2 linked regions of the Homo sapiens genome follow. The protein of the gene in region 1 interacts with the protein of each later gene in a pairwise test. Each region holds a gene or a part of one and is shown in the gene's direction. Other genes may lie near its edges. The genes, in order: C5AR2 and SLC26A11.

What was found.
Region 2: the proteins of C5AR2 (region 1) and SLC26A11 interact in a two-hybrid assay, tested with the Homo sapiens proteins (one large-scale study listed by BioGRID and IntAct).

What each region holds. Positions count from the first base shown.
Region 1 is NC_000019.10:47,338,462-47,342,270, forward strand, and holds part of C5AR2 (C5a anaphylatoxin chemotactic receptor 2), read left to right. Parts: intron 1-2,025; exon of another isoform or gene 2,026-2,151; intron 2,152-2,323; 5' UTR 2,324-2,338; coding exon 2,339-3,352; 3' UTR 3,353-3,809.
Region 2 is NC_000017.11:80,247,895-80,251,703, forward strand, and holds part of SLC26A11 (sodium-independent sulfate anion transporter), read left to right. Parts: intron 1-235; coding exon 236-363; intron 364-680; coding exon 681-780; intron 781-1,259; coding exon 1,260-1,393; intron 1,394-3,434; coding exon 3,435-3,507; intron 3,508-3,809. UniProt on the Homo sapiens protein: Sodium-independent anion exchanger mediating bicarbonate, chloride, sulfate and oxalate transport.

The sequences.
Region 1 (3,809 bases):
GTTGACACAAAACACAAAATGTTCAAGAAACAGTGGCTTCCAATAATAATAATTTTATTATTATTATTATTGTCAGGCACAGTGGCAATCATGCCTGTAATCCCAGCAGTTTGAGAGGCTGAGACAAGGCAGGTTGCTTAAGCCCCAGAATTCAAGACCAGCATGGGCAACATGGTGAAACCAGATGACCTCCAAAATAATAATAATAATAATAATAATAATAATAATTAATCAGGCATGATGGTGTGCACCTGTAGTCCTAGCTACTTGGGAGGGTGAGGTGGAGGGTTGCTTGAGCCCAGGAGATGGAGGCTGCAGTGAGCTGGGAAAGTGCCGCTGCAGTCCAGTCTGGGCTACAGAGCCAGACCCTGTCTCAAAAAATAGTAATAATATAGTAATAATATTATTGTGGCCCGACATGGTGGCTCACGCCTGTAATCCCAGCACTTTGGGAGGCTGAGGCAGGTGGATCACCTGAGGTCAGGAGTTCGACACCAGCCTGGCTAACATGGTGAAACCCCATCTCTACTAAAAATACAAAAATTAGCCAGGTGTGGTGGCATGTACCTGTAATCTCAGCTACTTGGGAGGCTGAGGCAGGAGAATTGCTTGAACCCAGGAGGCGGAGGTTGCAGTGAGCCGAGATCATGCCACCACACTCCAGCCTGGGCAACAGAGCAAAACTCTGTCTCAAAAAAAATAAATTATTGCTATGATAGATTATGTCGCTTCCTTGCTCAGCACCCTCCTATAGCACCTGTCTCATTTGGAATAAATGATGATGTCCTTGCGTTGCCCACGTGGCCCTACATGCCGTGGCCCCTGATAACTGTTTTTCATTTGTTTTGTTTTGTTTTGTTTTTTTCTTTTTTTGAGATGGAGTCTTGCTCTGTTGCCCAGGCTGGAGTGCACTGGCATGATCTCAGCTCACAGCAACCTCCGCCTCCCTGGTTCAAGTGATCCCTCCTGCCTCAGCCTCCTGAGTAGCTGGGATTACAGGCGTCCACCATCACTCCAGGTTATTTTTGTGTTTTTAGGAGAGATGGGGTTTCACCATGTTGGCCAGGCTGGTCTCAAACTCCTGACCTCAGGTGATCCACCCACCTTGGCCTCCCAAATTCCCGTGATTACTGGCATGAGCCACTGTGCCCGGCCCCTGATGACTCTGCTATTGCCTCTCACCCTCTCCCTCTGGCAGATTCCACTCCAGCCACACTGGGCTCCTTGCTGTTCTTGGACATGACCGTCATGTTCCCACCTCAGGGCCTTTGCACTGGCTGTTCTCGATGCCTGAAACACTCTTCCCCCAGATCTCGATGCATCTCTCCCACTGTTCCTTCAGATTTTTATGCAAATGTCACCTTCTCAAGAAGCCTTCCCTGACCATGCCTGTACAACTCCAACATAGCCAGCTTCCCTGTGTGATATTTTTCCCATAGTATTTATTATCTTCTAAAATACTGTGGATTTTGGATTTTGCTCATTTCTTTCTTTCTTTTCCTATTTTTTTTTATTTTTTGAGACAGAGTCTCTCTCTGTCATCCTGGCTGGAGTGCAGGGGTATGATCAAGCTCACTCAATCTCCTGGGCTCAAATGATTCTCCCACTTCAGCCTTTTCGGCAGCTAGGATCACAGGCACGCATGACCATGCCTGGCTATGTTTTAAAAAATTTTCGTAGAGATGGGGTCTCCCTATGTTGCCCAGGCTGGTCTAGAACTCCTGACCTCAAGTGATCTTCCCACCTTGGCCTCTCAAATCGTTGGGATTACAGGCCTGAACCACCGTGCCCAGCCCCAATATTCCAATGTACTAGGGTTCTGGCATTGTAATATTCTAGAATTCCAAGATGCCACTTCTAACAACACTAAGTTCTAGAATTCCAATTTTTTTTTTTTTTTTTTGAGATGGAGTCTCACTCTGTCTCCCAGGCTGGAGTGCAGTGGTGTGAGCTCAGCTCACTGCCACCTCCACCTTCTGGGTTCAAGAAATTCTCAGCCTCCCAAGTAGCTGGGATTACAGGTGCCCGCCACCACACCCAGCTAATTTTTGTATTTTTAGTAGAGACGGTGTTTCACCATGTTGGCCTGTCTTGAATTCCTGACCTCAAGTGATCCACCTGTCTTGGCCTCCCAAAGTGTTAAGATTACAGGTGTGAGCCACCACACCCGGCCTAGAATTCCAATATTCTAAAGCACTGGAGTCCTTATGACGCAATATTCCAGTTTGCAAGGTGCTGGTGGGCCGGGCTGATGGACACCCTAGATCTCCAGGGCCATGGAGTTTCCTCCTCTGAGTTTTCATCGTCTTTCTCTCCTGCCCAGACACCAGGAGCCTGAATGGGGAACGATTCTGTCAGCTACGAGTATGGGGATTACAGCGACCTCTCGGACCGCCCTGTGGACTGCCTGGATGGCGCCTGCCTGGCCATCGACCCGCTGCGCGTGGCCCCGCTCCCACTGTATGCCGCCATCTTCCTGGTGGGGGTGCCGGGCAATGCCATGGTGGCCTGGGTGGCTGGGAAGGTGGCCCGCCGGAGGGTGGGTGCCACCTGGTTGCTCCACCTGGCCGTGGCGGATTTGCTGTGCTGTTTGTCTCTGCCCATCCTGGCAGTGCCCATTGCCCGTGGAGGCCACTGGCCGTATGGTGCAGTGGGCTGTCGGGCGCTGCCCTCCATCATCCTGCTGACCATGTATGCCAGCGTCCTGCTCCTGGCAGCTCTCAGTGCCGACCTCTGCTTCCTGGCTCTCGGGCCTGCCTGGTGGTCTACGGTTCAGCGGGCGTGCGGGGTGCAGGTGGCCTGTGGGGCAGCCTGGACACTGGCCTTGCTGCTCACCGTGCCCTCCGCCATCTACCGCCGGCTGCACCAGGAGCACTTCCCAGCCCGGCTGCAGTGTGTGGTGGACTACGGCGGCTCCTCCAGCACCGAGAATGCGGTGACTGCCATCCGGTTTCTTTTTGGCTTCCTGGGGCCCCTGGTGGCCGTGGCCAGCTGCCACAGTGCCCTCCTGTGCTGGGCAGCCCGACGCTGCCGGCCGCTGGGCACAGCCATTGTGGTGGGGTTTTTTGTCTGCTGGGCACCCTACCACCTGCTGGGGCTGGTGCTCACTGTGGCGGCCCCGAACTCCGCACTCCTGGCCAGGGCCCTGCGGGCTGAACCCCTCATCGTGGGCCTTGCCCTCGCTCACAGCTGCCTCAATCCCATGCTCTTCCTGTATTTTGGGAGGGCTCAACTCCGCCGGTCACTGCCAGCTGCCTGTCACTGGGCCCTGAGGGAGTCCCAGGGCCAGGACGAAAGTGTGGACAGCAAGAAATCCACCAGCCATGACCTGGTCTCGGAGATGGAGGTGTAGGCTGGAGAGACATTGTGGGTGTGTATCTTCTTATCTCATTTCACAAGACTGGCTTCAGGCATAGCTGGATCCAGGAGCTCAATGATGTCTTCATTTTATTCCTTCCTTCATTCAACAGATATCCATCATGCACTTGCTATGTGCAAGGCCTTTTTAGGCACTAGAGATATAGCAGTGACCAAAACAGACACAAATCCTGCCCTCAGGGAGCTGATATTCTTCTAGTGGAGGAAGACAGACTATAAACAAAGATATATAGGGCCATTTGCGGTGGCTCACGCCTGTAATTCCAGGGCTTTGGGAGGCTGAGGCAGGTAGATCACTTGAGGTCAGGACTTCAAGACCAGCCTAGCCAATATGGTGAAACCCTGTCTCTACTAAAAATACAAAAATTAGCCGGGCATGGTGGCGCATGCCTGTAGTCCCAGCTACTTGGGAGGCTGAGGCAGAAGAATCG
Region 2 (3,809 bases), on another chromosome or scaffold:
GGACCGGCCGGCAGGTCTCACCTGCGCTCAGCTCAGATGGGGAGGGCATTTCTTTCTTTCGACTTGAAGCATGGCCTGGTCAGCAGCTGCTGTCCCCAAGTCCTCAGGGGCTGCTTGGGGTCCATGAGCACCTTTACTCATATGTGGGGGGCAGAAAGCTGTCCCGCTGGTCAGCAGGGCCATGTTGGGGCCTCGGGCAGCTGCCGGGCATTCCTCAGCTGTGCCCTTCTCCTAGGGCTGGACCTGCTGCCCCTGTGCGTGACCTTCCTGCTGTGCTTCTGGGAGGTGCAGTACGGCATCCTGGCCGGGGCCCTGGTGTCTCTGCTCATGCTCCTGCACTCTGCAGCCAGGCCTGAGACCAAGGTACCCCTCCGTGGCCTCTGAGTGGGGAGTGTGCTGGGGGCAGGATTCCTGGGCATGGTCTTATGTTTTGAGGGTCCGGGGTGATTGTGGTCGTGGGTGCTGCTGAAGGGGACCGCTCGCTGGCAGGTGGGCAGTCACCTTGCTATAAACCATGGTGTTCTCCCACTGTGTGGGGGCCATGGGGGTCTCCCCTTAGCACCCCTCTCCCGGTCCCCTGCAGCACACTAGGTTGGGTGGGGGCTTCCCGCTTGGGACAGGCCAAGCCTGGTGGAGGCCACCCGGTCAGACCCGCCTCCAGGACTCACTCCTCCCCACAGGTGTCAGAGGGGCCGGTTCTGGTCCTGCAGCCGGCCAGCGGCCTGTCCTTCCCTGCCATGGAGGCTCTGCGGGAGGAGATCCTAAGCCGGGCCCTGGAAGGTGCATGGGCGGGGGTCAAGGTGGTCTGAGGTCACTCCCCTGTCCTCTGCCCCCCACTCCCTGCTGTTCAGGACCCCAAGACCCTGTCCCCAACGCTCTCCAGTCCACAAGGATGCAGGCATCTCTGAGTGGGCTGGACCGTCCTCTGTGGGCCTCAGCCAGTGGCTGCTGCAGCAAGGGTGGTGGCCCCCCACATATCACTCCTTCCCTGCCCCTAAAGTCCGGTTCCTGTTTCTGGGGGGTTGATTTTAGGGGAGCTAAGGGCCTGTGAGTCCTAGGAGGGAAACAGCTGCTGCTGTCACCAAACAATTGTCTCTGGTCCTGCCACCCGAATCCCCCAACTGGGCGACTCAGCCGCCACGAGATGGAGCACTCTGGCCTCTCTGTCCCCTGCCCCTGGCCAGAGCCTCCTTTGGCCTCTGCAGAGCAGCTTTGGGCTGCTCTGGGTGGCGTGACCTGGCTCGGGCCTGTCTCCCCAGTGTCCCCGCCACGCTGCCTGGTCCTGGAGTGCACCCATGTCTGCAGCATCGACTACACTGTGGTGCTGGGACTCGGCGAGCTCCTCCAGGACTTCCAGAAGCAGGGCGTCGCCCTGGCCTTTGTGGGCCTGCAGGTGGGTGTGCACTGGGCTGCCTTAGGGGTTAGCAGCTGCCGGAAGGCCTTCCTGTGCCTGCCTCCCATGGCGAATGTGACATCTCTGGGCTGTGATGCTGGACGGCCCTTCGGCCGGTGCTGGCTCTGCTTCTGATTTAAACAGTTCTTGTTCCCATCTGGCCTTCCTCGTCCCTCCCTGTGGAAGGGGGAGCGGTGGCCCCCAGCCCTCCGAGGGGTCACGTTATGGCTTCTGGTCACTGCCACACTGTCCTTTGTGCTGGGGACACACAGTGAACGAGGGTCAGTCCCTGCTCTCAGGGGAATTGTATTTTAGGAAACAAAAAGAGACAGGTGAGGCTAGGCGTGGTGGCACACTCCTGGAATCCCAGCACTTTGGGAGGCCAAGGCGGGCAGATCACCTGAGGTCAGGAGTTCAAGACCAGCCTGGCCAACATGGTGAAACCCCGTCTCTACTAAAAATACAAAAAAAAACTAGTCAGGTGTGGTGGCGAGCGCCTGTAATTCCAGCTACATGGGAGGCTGGGAGAATCGCTTGAACCTGGGAGGTGGAGGTTGCAGTAAGCCGAGATCCCACTACTGTACTCCAGCCTGGGCGACAGAGTGGGACTCCATCTCAAAAACAAACAAACGAAAAAAAACAGGTGCTCATAGAATTTCATGAAAAACGTATTGTCAGGGCTTCCAGAGGCTGAAGACGGGTTTCTATGGAGGCCGTCCTGTTCAGAGCCACAGGTAAAGTGTAAGGGCTGGGTCCCAGGCCCTGCGTCTTAGGCCTCACCTAGGAGCCTTCTGAGCACTGCAGGGTCAACATCCCAGGGGTGTGGCCAGTGTTTGCAGAGAGGCAGGGGTCTCTGTTGCTGTGGTTAAATGTGCGCTCTCTGCCAAGTCCTAGATGGCAGAACGTGGGGGACTAGGGCGTGTCCCCAGGCGCCCAGAGGAGACATTCATGAACTAGCCATGGAACAGGAGGCCAAGTGACCCGTATACCCCAGGTGTGGACCACAGCCGACCCTTGTCAGAGTTTCCTTCATTCCCAACCTGGCCCACGAGGCTAGTGTTATCTTCATCCCCATGTCCAGAAGAGGTCACTGAGGCCCAGAGAAGCCAGGTAATCTGCCCACGGTCACACAGGATGGTGGGCCCGGCTTCAGATTTGGGCATGTGCCTTCAGAACTTCGCTCATAAGTGTTACGTCCTGTGTCATATTTGCAGAGCACATGTCTTCATGGTCTTTGGAGATGATTCACTTAAAAAAATACTCCTCTGACCCAGACATGGTGGCTCACACCTGTAATCCCAGCACTTTGAGAGGCCGAGGCGGGAGGTCAAGGGTTTGAGACCAGCCTGGCCAACATAGTGAAACTCCGTCTCTACTAAAAATACAAAAATTAGACGGGCATGGTGGCGCACGCCTGTAATCCCAGCTGCTCAGGGGGCTGAGGCAGGAGAATCGCTTGAACCCGGGAGGCAGAGGTTGCAGTGAGCCGAGATCGCGCCATTGCACTCCAGCCTGGGTAACAAGAGTGAAACTCCATCTCAAAAACAAACAAACAAACAAAAAGTCCTCTGGGCCAGGCGCTGTGGCTCACACCTGTAATCCCAGCACTTTGGGAGGCCGAGGTAGGAGGATCATTTGAGGCCAGGAGTTTGAGACCAGCCTGGGCAACATGACGAAACCCCATCAAAAAAATAGGAAAAAATAGCTGGACGTGGTGGCGTGCACCTGTAGCTACTCAGGAGGCTGAGGTGGGAGGATCACTTGAGTCTGGGAGGTTGAGGCTGCAGTGAGCCATGATCGTGCCACTGCACTCCAGCCTGAGCAATGAGCAAGACCCTGTCTCAAAAAACAAAAAATTAAAAAAAAAAAAATCTTCCTCTGACAGCATTCCCCTGGGGCTGCGTTTCTTCTCACCATTCACTGGTATGGAGGTGAAGCCATACCTCTCCGGGAGACTCTGAGATGGCAGGTCTACCAGGCTGCCGACCCGTGTGCTACAGAGGAACATCCCTGCCCTGGCTAAAGTCTGTCTGTCTCTCAGGTCCCCGTTCTCCGTGTCCTGCTGTCCGCTGACCTGAAGGGGTTCCAGTACTTCTCTACCCTGGAAGAAGCAGGTGGGCACAGTCAGACATCCTGTGGCTTTGGTGATTTTGTAAAAATCATAAATGCTTATTGTAAAAAATATGGGAAACCAGCTGGGCACAGTGGCTCATGCCTGTAATCCCAGCACTTTGGGAGGCCGAGGCAGGTGGATCACCTGAGGTCAGGAGTTCGAGACCAGCCTGGCCAACATGGTAAAACCTCATCAGTACTAAAAATACAAAAATTAGCTGGGTGTGGTGGCATGCACCTCTAGTCCCAGCTATTCGGGAGGCTGAAGCAGGAGAATCGCTTGAACCCAGGAGGCAGAGGTTGT